2 separate regions of the Homo sapiens genome follow, and region 1 is linked to region 2. The links come from fine-mapping of genetic effects on gene expression. A gene starts in region 2. The other region holds a variant in brackets. All regions are shown on one strand. Distances are between the middles of the regions. Region 1 overlaps ZC3H7A (zinc finger CCCH-type containing 7A). Region 2 holds the start of ZC3H7A (zinc finger CCCH-type containing 7A).

Region 1 (5,376 bases), 41 kb before region 2:
CATAAAACTCAGGTTAGAAATAGGGACAAGGAAAGGACCACAGCATGGGGAAGCAAGCCAGCACTCAGGACACAGAGAAGAAGGGTGACAAATGCTGCCAGCTGTCCAGGAAATCTCCGGTAAAGAGGCAATAGGAGCTGGTATGCAAACAAGGATGTTTGCTGGGAGAACAAGAGGCAGGTACAAACAAGGATTCAGGGAAGAACTAACACCATGAGGAAAAGCAGAAAGGATGAGAAAGACCAGGACATGCCAACTCCAAAAGGACGAGCAGCAGCTCCCTTCAGTGTACGTGAACTGAGCCACTGCTGTGGCATCAGGAATTTAAAGACACTGCCCCTGTGGGGAACAGACCTATACAAAAGGAAGTGTTATGAGGGGATTTAAGTGCTACAACAGATGCAAACTATAAGTGTTGGATAGTATTTCCCAAATGTCCTGGGCAATAATTATCTGCAACACTGGGTAAAAACAGATTTGAACTCATTCATTGTGGGGTATAAATGAAGACTTTTTATTACTTTATTTTTTTAGAGACATGGTCTCGCTGTCATCCAGGCTAGAGTATGGTGGTGCGATCATAGCTCACTGCAGCCTTGAACTCCTGGGCTCAAGTGGTCCTCCCACTTCAGCCTCCTGAGTGGCTAGGATTACAGGTGCAAGCCACCACGCCCAGCTCTAAGACTCCTTATTATGAAACACCCCAGGTAGGCCTTATTTATTTATTTGTTTATTTTTGAGACAGAGTCTCACTCTGTTGCTTAGGCTGGAGTGGAGTGATGCGATCTTGGCTCACTGCAACCTCCATCTCCCAGGTTTAAGCAATTCTCCTGCCTCAGCCTCCTAAGTAGCTGGGATTACAGGCACCTGCCACCATGCCCAGCTAATTGTTTGCATTTTTAGTGGAGAAGGGGTTTCACCAAGTTGGCCAAGCTGGTCTTGAACTCCTAACCTTAGGTGATCCACCTGCCTCGGCCTCCCAAATTGCTGGGATTACAGGCATGAACCACCATGCCCGGCCCCAGGTAAGCCTTATGATCCAACAAGTCGAGGTGACCTGCTCTAGAAACACCAAGGAGCAGTTGGGCGCAGTGGCTCATGCCTATAATCACAGCACTTTGGGAGGCCGAGGCAGGAGGAGTGCTTGAGCACAGGAGTTTCAGACTAGCGTGGGCAACATGGCAAAATCCCCATCTCTACAAAAAATACAAAAATTAGCCAGGCATGGTGGAGAGCACCTGCAGTCCTAGCTACTGAGGAGGCTGAGGTCGGAGGATCACCTGAGCCCAGGAGGTAGTGGCTGCAGTGAGCCATAACTGTGCCTCTGTACTCCGGCCTGGATGACAGAGTGAGACCCTGTCTCAAAAAAAAAAAAAAAAAGGAAGAAAAAAAAATATATATATATATATAATAAAATAAACACCAAGGAGCACTTAAGTAAAGGTAGCAAGGGAATCAATGTGACAAAGGTAAACATTCACAGGGCATGTCACAAGCAGAGAGACGCTGGGCAAGGCCAGGCCACACACAAGGCCTGCAATGGGCAATGAAACTGGATCTGACTGAATCAACAGAGAGACGGAGGTGCCAAAAAACAAGAAATAAGGGCAGTAACACATATGCTTATGTAAACTTTTAAAACCACATCAAGTGGAACTATAGATTATTTAAGAATAAATGTAGCTGGGCACGGTGGCTCACGCCTGTAATCCCAGCACTTTGGGAGGCTGAGGCGGGCAGATCACGCAAGGTCAGGAGTTTGAGACCAGCCTGACCAACATGGTGAAACTCCGTCTCTACTAAAAATACAAAAATTAGCCGTGCGTGGTGGCCGGCACCTGTAGTCCCAGCTACACGGGAGGCTGAGGCAGGAGAATTGCTTGAACCTGAGAGGCAGAGGTTGCAGTGAGCCAAGATCACATCATTGCACTCGTGCCTGGGCGACAGAGCGAGACTCCGTCTCACAAAAAAAAAAAAAAAAAAAAAGAATACATG[T/G]GTTGGCCGGGCACAGTGGCTCATGCCTGTAATCCCACGGTTTTGGAAGGCTGAGGCGGGTGGATCACAAGCTCAGGAGTTTGAGACCAGCCTGGCCAACATGGTGAAACCCCGTCTCTACCAAAAACACAAAAAATTAGCCGGGCGTGGTGGCAGGCGCCTATAATCCCTTGCTATTTAGAAGGCTGAGGCAGGAGAATCGCTTGAACCCGAGAGGCGGAGGTTGCAGTGAGCCAAGACTACCGCATTGCACTCCAGCCTGGGCAACAGAGTAAGACTCCATCTCAAAAAAAAAAAAAAAAATAGAATAAATGTGTCATCCTTAGGTAAACATGGCCTGGAAAAATACACACTGGATCTGTTCCCCTGGGGAGGGGAACATATGGGGTTCTAACTTTATCTGTGGCATTTATTTATTTTATAATAGGAACTACAACAAATTGTTAACATCAGTTAACTTGCGATGGTGGGCTCAAGATATTTGTTATAGTATCCTCTTCACTTTTTTGAAATTTTTAAAAGAAAACCAAAACAGTTAACAGACCACTGGTAACTTAATGTCCCCAAGAACCATAGAGGGAGAGGCCAGACTGCAGGCGTAAGCGGGGAATGTAAGGTCCAGCGGGGTAGACAGCCCACATTCCTGAGCCACCTGCTGGGGCCTCCCACTAGGGAAGAGTCACAGACTCCTCATACTTCACTAATCCATCAGGACAACCCCACTCGGAGACATAAATAATCTACCCAGGGTGCCAGGCAAGTAAGGAGAGAAACCAGGACTTGGACTTATGATTCTCTGGCTCCAAAGTCAGAAGGATTGAAGAAAGGATTTTTTCACATGAGGAGACTTAAGCTAGTGGCAGGAAACCACTAGAGAGAGAAGATGAAGACACAGAACAGAGAAGGGCAGGCAGTGAGTGACGGAGCCGGGTTTTGGAGAAGATGGGAAAGAAAAGAAAGGCCGGGCATGGTGGCTCACGCTTGTAATCCCAGCACTTTGGGAGGCCGAGGCAGGCAAATCACGAGGTCAGGAGTTCGAGACCATCCTGGCCAACATGGTGAAACTCCATCTCTACTAAAAATACAAAAATTAGCTGGGCGTGGTGGCGCGAGCCTATAATCCCAGCTACTTGGGAGGCTGAGGCAAGAGAATTGCTTGAACCAGGGAGGCGGAGGTTGCAGTGAGCTGAAATCACACCACTGCACTCCAGCCTGGTGACACAACGAGACTCCATCTCAAAAAAAAGAAAAGGGAAAAGAAAGGCTCCATCAATGGCTCGGCAAAGAGAGGGTAAATGACGCACGGTACTCACTGTAACTTCAGCATAATCTGTTGGCATGTGAATTTGTTTTCCATTTTCCTTGTTTGACTGACTGGCTATGTCTTCACTTTTTTCATTTTTTTGACTCTTGAGCCATAGTTCGTAAAATTGCTCCATATCTTGTACTAAAGAAAAATGAATTACTTTCAGCAGCAGCAACTAAACTCCATTTAAATACATGCAACTATGTGCATATTTTGTAGCAGTCAGCATACAGTTCAAAAGAAACTCAAGGGGGCTGAAGGAGACTATTATATTAGACATGGAGAGATCACCCAGTTCAAGCAGCAGGTAAACTCTCACGCATAAGAACTACTTTCAGGACTGTTAGATGGCAAATATTAGTTCTCAGGATTAATTAACCCCTCCCTGCATTTGCACGACACTTTGGGGATGTTTAAAACTCAGAAACCATTATAAACAGTATTGTCACAAAAGCCTCACCACTGCCTCTGTCGCCCTACGTTCCACACTCAGTGTCAGAGCTAGAACCACACAAGGCTACTTACGTGGCTTGGGGGACTTGGAGCTGATACACTCCTCACTGCTTACTGAGAAAGATGAGAAACATACTACTACTGGACCAAGATTCTGACCCTGATGGGAGTCCATCAGTCAAGCCACAGTCCCAGAGGGCGGATATGCTGGGCTGCAACTGACAAGACAACCATGACCAAGTCCTGGGCAGTGGCTGCCAGTTGCTTCCTATGGTAAGAACAGGTGTATTCTGCATTATTGCCAAGTGCTAAAGCTGAGGTTTCTCAGCCTCCATGTGGTTGACATTCTGGCTAGAGAATTCTTTGCTGGGGGTATGCCCTGTGCATTACAGGATGGTGAGTAGCATCCCTGGCCTCTGCCCACTAGATGCCTGAGCAACTTCTGCCAGTCATGACAATGAAAATATCTCCAGACATTGCCAAATGTCCACAGGGAAGGGGAGTGGCAAAATTTGTTCCCAGCCGGGCACGGTGGCTCACGCCTGTAATCCCAGCACTTTGGGAGGCTGAGGCGGGTGGATCACAAGGTCAGGAGATCGAGACCATCCTGGCTAACACGGTGAAACCCCGGCTCTACTAAAAATACAAAAAATTAGCCGGGTGTGGTGGCAGGCGCCTGTAGTCCCAGCTACTCGGGAAGCTGAGGCAGGAGAATGGTGTGAACCCGGGAGGCGGAGCTTGCAGTGACCCGAGATCACGCCACTGCACTCCAGCCTGGGTGACAAAGCGAGACTCTGTCTCAAAAAAAAAAAAAAAAAAAAAAAAAAAAATTTGTTCCCAGTTGAGAACCACTGTGCTAAAAACTCTGGTAATGAGGACCTGGTTAAAACTTGGCTTTGTTGTCTGCCTAATGGTTTCTAACAATGTATCATCAGGCAAAGATTAGAGATAAACTAGAAATGCTTCTTCCTTAAGACCAGTGGTGGCAGGAGTCATTGCAAAAGCCTGGTGCGCAAGGGCATCTTCAGTCAGGCCGGACTACATAGCCTCACTCCCAGCAAGACAGCTAGAGGGAATCCCGTCCACACACCACTGACGATCTATGTGGTTGAAACATGGCAGGCAACAGTCAAATCTGGTTGGTTCTTATAATCCAGAGACTGCAGTCAGTATACCTTTCATCAGTTTACTTAAGATTAAAGAATAATGATCCTTGTAGTAAAACATTTTATGGTCAAAAGTGAAAGGCTGTCTGCGGCTCCTCTCAAAGGCTCCCACAATAAACTTGGAATTTGACCAAAATAAACATTCTTTCCTTGGACCTCTGATTCTGAGCCTGTTTGATTAGTAATGCCTCCCTGAAGAAACTGCCAATTCTAACCTGGTTAATTCAGAGGGCAAACTATTTCCAATACGAGCAGATGATCTGATTTAAACAGTCAAGGGAGTACTGAACTTCCCCAGGCCATTTTTTAGGAATACATCTATTACATGTAAGGATGCATGCAGACCTATATATTTATATCCAAATCTGACCTAACCAAACACAGATCAGACGCCACATTCTACCCCACTGAGGCTGTGCCCACATTTTCCAGGCATCATCGCCAACAGAGCTACTG
Region 2 (5,376 bases):
AGCTTCATGACAAATGATTTGCCTGGGGACACTGATACCACCACGATGTACCCAAGACCGCCAGCCGATGAAGTCTTCCCAACCAAGTAACCCCAACACACTCTCACCTTCTTACCAAATGTGCCAGATTAATGTCCTGCTCCAAATTCAGGCCTTTTCAGAAAACATAAAGCTTCCCGCTTTCTATTTGTGAAAAAGTAACCTCGTTGCTTTACATAAACGAAAATCACCTCATTTAATATGCCTTTTGTGTACATGTAAATTAAAACGTTATCACTAGCAGTAATTTTTAAACTTCTGGATTAATACTTTAATACTTCTCTCCTCCTTAAAAATTATCTAAAATTTCTTCTTGATTTGCCAACACCTCACACTTTAAGTAATTTTCATAAGGATTCTGGAGAAAAATATTTTCACTAGAAAAAAAACAAAACAAAACAGAACACTTCCAGACGTTATCCAGAAGACAAAAGTTTGCTCACATCATACTGTCTCTAGAAAGCCCTTTCTAGGGTATCTGTGGCAACAGGATACAGACGTCTTTTGTTTCTTTCTTCCTTTACTGAAATGCTCAAAACTTTCCAACAGTCACTCTCACCATCCCTGGAGTTGAGAGTTTCTATAATTGATTCTCTTCCACTTACAATGACAATTTAACCCACCCCAACTGGCAGGTTTTAAAATCAGTCAAAACTAAGAATTGTGGAACAATGTGGCTGACAAGCCACCATTCTTATTTGCAAAAACTGACAGAATCTGGGGAATGGGAAGGAAAGAGGGTGTAGGTCTGTGTAAAACCCCCAACGAAAAGTCACAGTAACATGAAGAAAGGCAGGAATTCTCCACTTCGTTTGGATGGCAGAAAATCAACGGGCTCTTTGTAGAATAAACACACACACACAAACACACACGCACAAATATTGATAATATTGAGCCTCAACAACTCATGATCTCATCCTGAGACAAACCTCATACAACTATTTGTAGCCTCCAGCATACAGCAGATAGGGAAAATTTTTCAACAGGGAAAATACTGTCCATTAACTTGAATTATTCTGCAAATTAGGACAAGACCCATTGTGCAATTCAGTTCAACAGTTTGGCTCAGTATGAGAAGGAAGAGGCAGTGGATTCTTTGAGAGCTTAAGGGAAGGAGGCCACATGCCATCAGAGAAGCAGGAAAGATAAGCAGATAGACATGTCTTCTCAGGGCCACCACCCATTCAGATGCCCCAGCTGCGCGCTGTCCAGTCGAAATATTGTACAAAATATATTACACAAAATAAGCCATACGTGTCATTGTATGTATGTATGTATGTACGCATGTATGTGGAGAGGGAGTCTCGCTCTGTTGCCCAGGGAGGAGTGCAGTGGCACAATCTCGGCTCACTGCAACCTCTGCCTCCCGGTTCAAACGATTCTCCTGCCTCAGCCTCCCCAGTAGCTGGGATTACAGGCGCCTGCCACCACGCCTGGCTGATTTTTGTATTTTTACTAGAGACGGGGTTTCTCCATGTTGGCCAGGCTGGTCTCGGAATTCCTGACCTCAGGTGATCCACACACCTCGGCCTCCCAAAGTGCTGGGATTACAGACGTTGAGCCACCCCGCCCGGCCCGTATATGTCATTTTAAATTTCCAAATAGCCACACTAAAAAAAGAGAAAAAGAAAAGCAGTGAGATTAACTTTTGTTTTTTTATTTGTTTGTTTTGAGACAGTGTCCCAGGCTGGAGCACAAAGGCACAATCTCAGCTCACCGAAGCCTCAATCTCCTGGGCTCAAGGGATTCTCCCACCCCAGCCTTCCGAGTAGCAGATTCTCCCACCTCAGCTTCCCGAGTAGCTGACTACCGGCGTGCGCCACCACGCCCAGTTAATTTTTTGTATTTTTTGTAGAGACAGGGGTCTCACTATGTTGCTGAGGCTGGTCTTGAACTCCTGCACTCAAACGATCCTCCTGCCTCAGCCTCCCAAAGTTTTGGGATGACAGGCATGAGCCACTGCATCCTGCCAAGATTAATTTTAATGATCTATTTTCGTTAATCCAATTTGTCCCAAACATGACCATCTCAACATGCATTTAAGTATAAAAGATTACCAATGACATCTTTTACTTTCTTTCTCATCCGAAGTTTTTAAAATCAGATGTACGTTTCACAGCTGGGACCGCAACTGAAACTGGCCCCATTTCGTGGGCTCCATCGTCCCAAACGGCGGGGGGTCAGTGGCCACCGTACTGGGCATGGCAAGGTCCTTCGTGGTTCAATACCGAACACGGGCAACTCCTTTTCATCCCTAGACAGGTGGGGACAGGAAAATACCCAACTCCTGGCAAATCCACCCAGTCCCGACTCAGGCTCGACCTCGGAGGCCCCGGCCGGGCCTCAGGCGGCCCCACCCCTTTGCTGCCCAGGCCTGACCGGAAGCCCCGCTAATGGGAACTGACAGGTCCCGGTCCCGGTCCTCCCGGGCGGCGCCCCCGCCTCCGCGGACCCCAAGGCCTCTCCCCGCCCGGCCCAGGGCTGCACCCCGCGCGAAAAAATAAAAAAATCAGAAAGGGGGGTAAAAAAGACGGATGAGCCCCAAATTAATGCGCCAAGCTCTCCGCCGGCATCCTTCCCGCCCCCAAGCCCAAGACGCTGAATCGGGATCCCCGCGATCACCAGAGCAGACAGAAATAACCAAAAAAAAAATTTTTTTTTAGTGAAATCACCAAAAAGGAGACATTTTGCCGAGGGAATGGCAGGCAGAAGTGGGTCACGTTATTCTCGGTGGGGGAAGGGGACGGCGCGCCCACCCGTCCCTCCGCGCGCACAGGCCCCGGCCCGGCTCCTCTCAGGGTCCTCTCGGGTCCGCGGGCCCCGGACCCCGCCGCCCCTCCCCCGCCCCGCCCGCCGTCCGTTAACGGCCGCGCGCGAGCACGAGGCGGCGGCGCGCGCGGGGGGGGCGGGGGCGCGGGCGCGCGCGTTTCCTTCATGCCCGGCGGCGTCCCCCTACCCCTACCTGTGGGGACGACGCGCCGGCCGGCGGCAGAAGGCAGGCGGAGGCGGGCGGCGGCAGGCGGGCAGCGGTGGCGGCGGCGGCGGCGGGGCCTGGGTGCTCGCTCGCAGCTCTCCCTCGGTTAGCGGCGGCGGCAGCGGCTCGGTTGCGCCCGCGGCGGCGCCCTCTAGCGGCGGGAGGCCGCGCTTGCCGCCCGGGAGACGCCGCCATTGGCTGCGCCGGAGCTACGGGCTGGGGGCGGTGGCGCCACGTCTGACTGGGGGCAGGGACCTGGGCGCGCCGTTCAATCCGGAGCCCCGGCGTCGACGCGCGGCCCACTGGGTGAGCCAATGGGAAGGCCACGTTGCGCACTGGACGCGCTCGGACTCAAGACTGATTAACCAGCACCGGGGTTTTCTGGGGCCTCGCCTGGGCCGCGGCCTGAGCAGAAGCGCTAGGAGGTAGAACAGCGTCCAGCGGGGAGAGGAGCTAGAGTCGGCATCGGGAAGCCCACCCTGGAGCCTGCTTAGCTTGACGAGCCCTCAACCGGGGCGCCCTGCTCTGCGAAGAGTAACCCTGCATCCTCAGAACAACCGTGATTGTCTTCATTCCTACATATGAGGAACGGAGGCGCGGAGCCCCACGGCAGCCGGGGATCCAAAGACAGCCTCCCTCCAGTTCCATCTGCCGGCTCTTGGAAGGCCTGGATCCCTGTCCTTCAGGGCCCAGCCCAAATGCCGCCTCGTCCATCTGCATTTTACGGCCAGGTGCCCCGCTGCGGGCACGGCTTCTTGTAAAATGCTCAGCTCAGCAGTGGGCGAGGCAGGGTCCCTGCCCCATGGGATGGAGGGCGGAGATCAGGACCCACAAGAGCCCAAAGAAGACCATTTTGGTCGGTGAAGACCAAAGAAATTCAAGCAGGAGGATGTGACAGGAGCTTTTGGGAAAGCCTCTGAGGAGGTGACAGCCATGCAACCGTGTTCGGGGAAGTGTGCCGCAGGCAGAGGGGAAATGAGTGCAAAAGCCCTGAAGCTGGAGTTCGGTGTCTGGATAACAGGAAAGGCCTGCATAGCTGATGTGTGCCAGAGGGGAGAAAGATCTGTGACACAGGGGGGCCGCCATGTTTAATTTGGAGTTTTGTGTGGAAGGGGGTCATTCATTGAGTCTGAATTGGGAGTTCCGAGGTCTCATTTATATTTTAGAAAGTTCTCTCCTGCTACTATGCAGAGATTGGGCTGTAGGAGAGACAAGAGGGGAAGTGGGGACTCTAGCTACAGTAGCTCTTCCAGGGGTCTGGGTGACGTAGATTTACAAACCAGAGTATTAGCTCAGGCTGCCATGACAAAATACCCCAGACCAGGCAGCTTAGACAACAGGAATTTATTTTCTCACAGTTTTAGAGGCTGCAAATCTAAGGTCTGGGTGCCGGCAGGGCTGGTTTCTGGTGAGGCCTCTCTCCCTGGCTTGCAAACAGCTGCCTTCTCACTGTGTCCTCCTATGACCTTTTCTCTGTGAGCAGGAATCCCTGGTGTGTCTTCCTTTTTCTTACAAGAACAACAATTTTACTAGATTAGGGCCCCACCCTATGACTTCATTTAACCCCAGTGACTACCTAAAAGGCCGTATTCAAATAGTCGTATTAGGCCAGGCGCAGTGGCTCACGCCTGTAATTCTAGCACTTTGGGAAGCCGAGGCAGATGGATTGCCTGAGCTCAGGAGTTGGAGACCAGCCTGGGCAACACAATGAGACCCCGTCTTTACTAAAATACAAAAAATTAGCCGGGCATGGCGACGTGCACATGTAATCCCAGCTACTCGGGAGGCTGAGGCAGGAGAATCGCTTGAACCTGGGAGGCAGAGGTTGCAGTGAGCTGAGATCGCGCCATTGCACTCCATATTGGGCGAGAGAGAGAGTCTGTACCAAAAAAAAAAAAAAAAGTATAAGGGTCCTATGACTTCATTTAACCCTAATGACTGCCTAATATGCCTAATAGCCATATTAGGGTTAGAGCTTCAACATACGGACTCCGGGGTGGGTATGTGCGGAGCGGGGAGCGTTTCAGTCCGTAACACCAGGTAAGTGCTGCAACAGATATTGGAGAGCTGATGGGCTGTGGTTTTAGGGAAGCTCCTCTAAGAAAGGGGTGGATTATACCGGGCGCACTGGCTCACATCTATAATCCCAGCACTTTGGGAGGCCGAGGCAGGGGGATCACGAGGTCAGAAGTTCAAGACCAGCTTGGCCAACATGGTGAAACCCTGTCTCTACTAAAAATACAAAAATTAGCCAAGCATGGAGGCAGGCGCCTGTAATCCCAGCTCCTGGGGAGGCTGAGGCAGGAGAATCACTTGAACCTGGGAGGTGGAGGTTGTGGTGAGTCGAGATCGCGCCACTGTAC

Evidence for each region. PIP is the estimated chance that this variant, and not a neighbour inherited with it, causes the effect.
Region 1: its variant is the best candidate, but not a certain one, in a credible set for the expression of ZC3H7A in whole blood (TOPMed, PIP 0.68).

Annotation. Positions count from the first base shown.
Region 1 is chr16:11,752,929-11,758,304 of GRCh38, forward strand. ZC3H7A (zinc finger CCCH-type containing 7A) reads right to left here. Exons shown (of 23, transcript NM_014153.4): 21 at 3,309-3,442. Among named protein-coding and RNA genes, the nearest start is that of TXNDC11-AS1, 13 kb to the left of the region's middle. The variant T/G (reference allele first, on the strand shown) is at 1,996.
Region 2 is chr16:11,794,123-11,799,498 of GRCh38, forward strand. ZC3H7A (zinc finger CCCH-type containing 7A) reads right to left here and starts at 3,136. Exons shown (of 23, transcript NM_014153.4): 1 at 3,002-3,136. RefSeq lists silencers at 2,368-2,527, 3,010-3,419 and an enhancer at 2,835-3,372.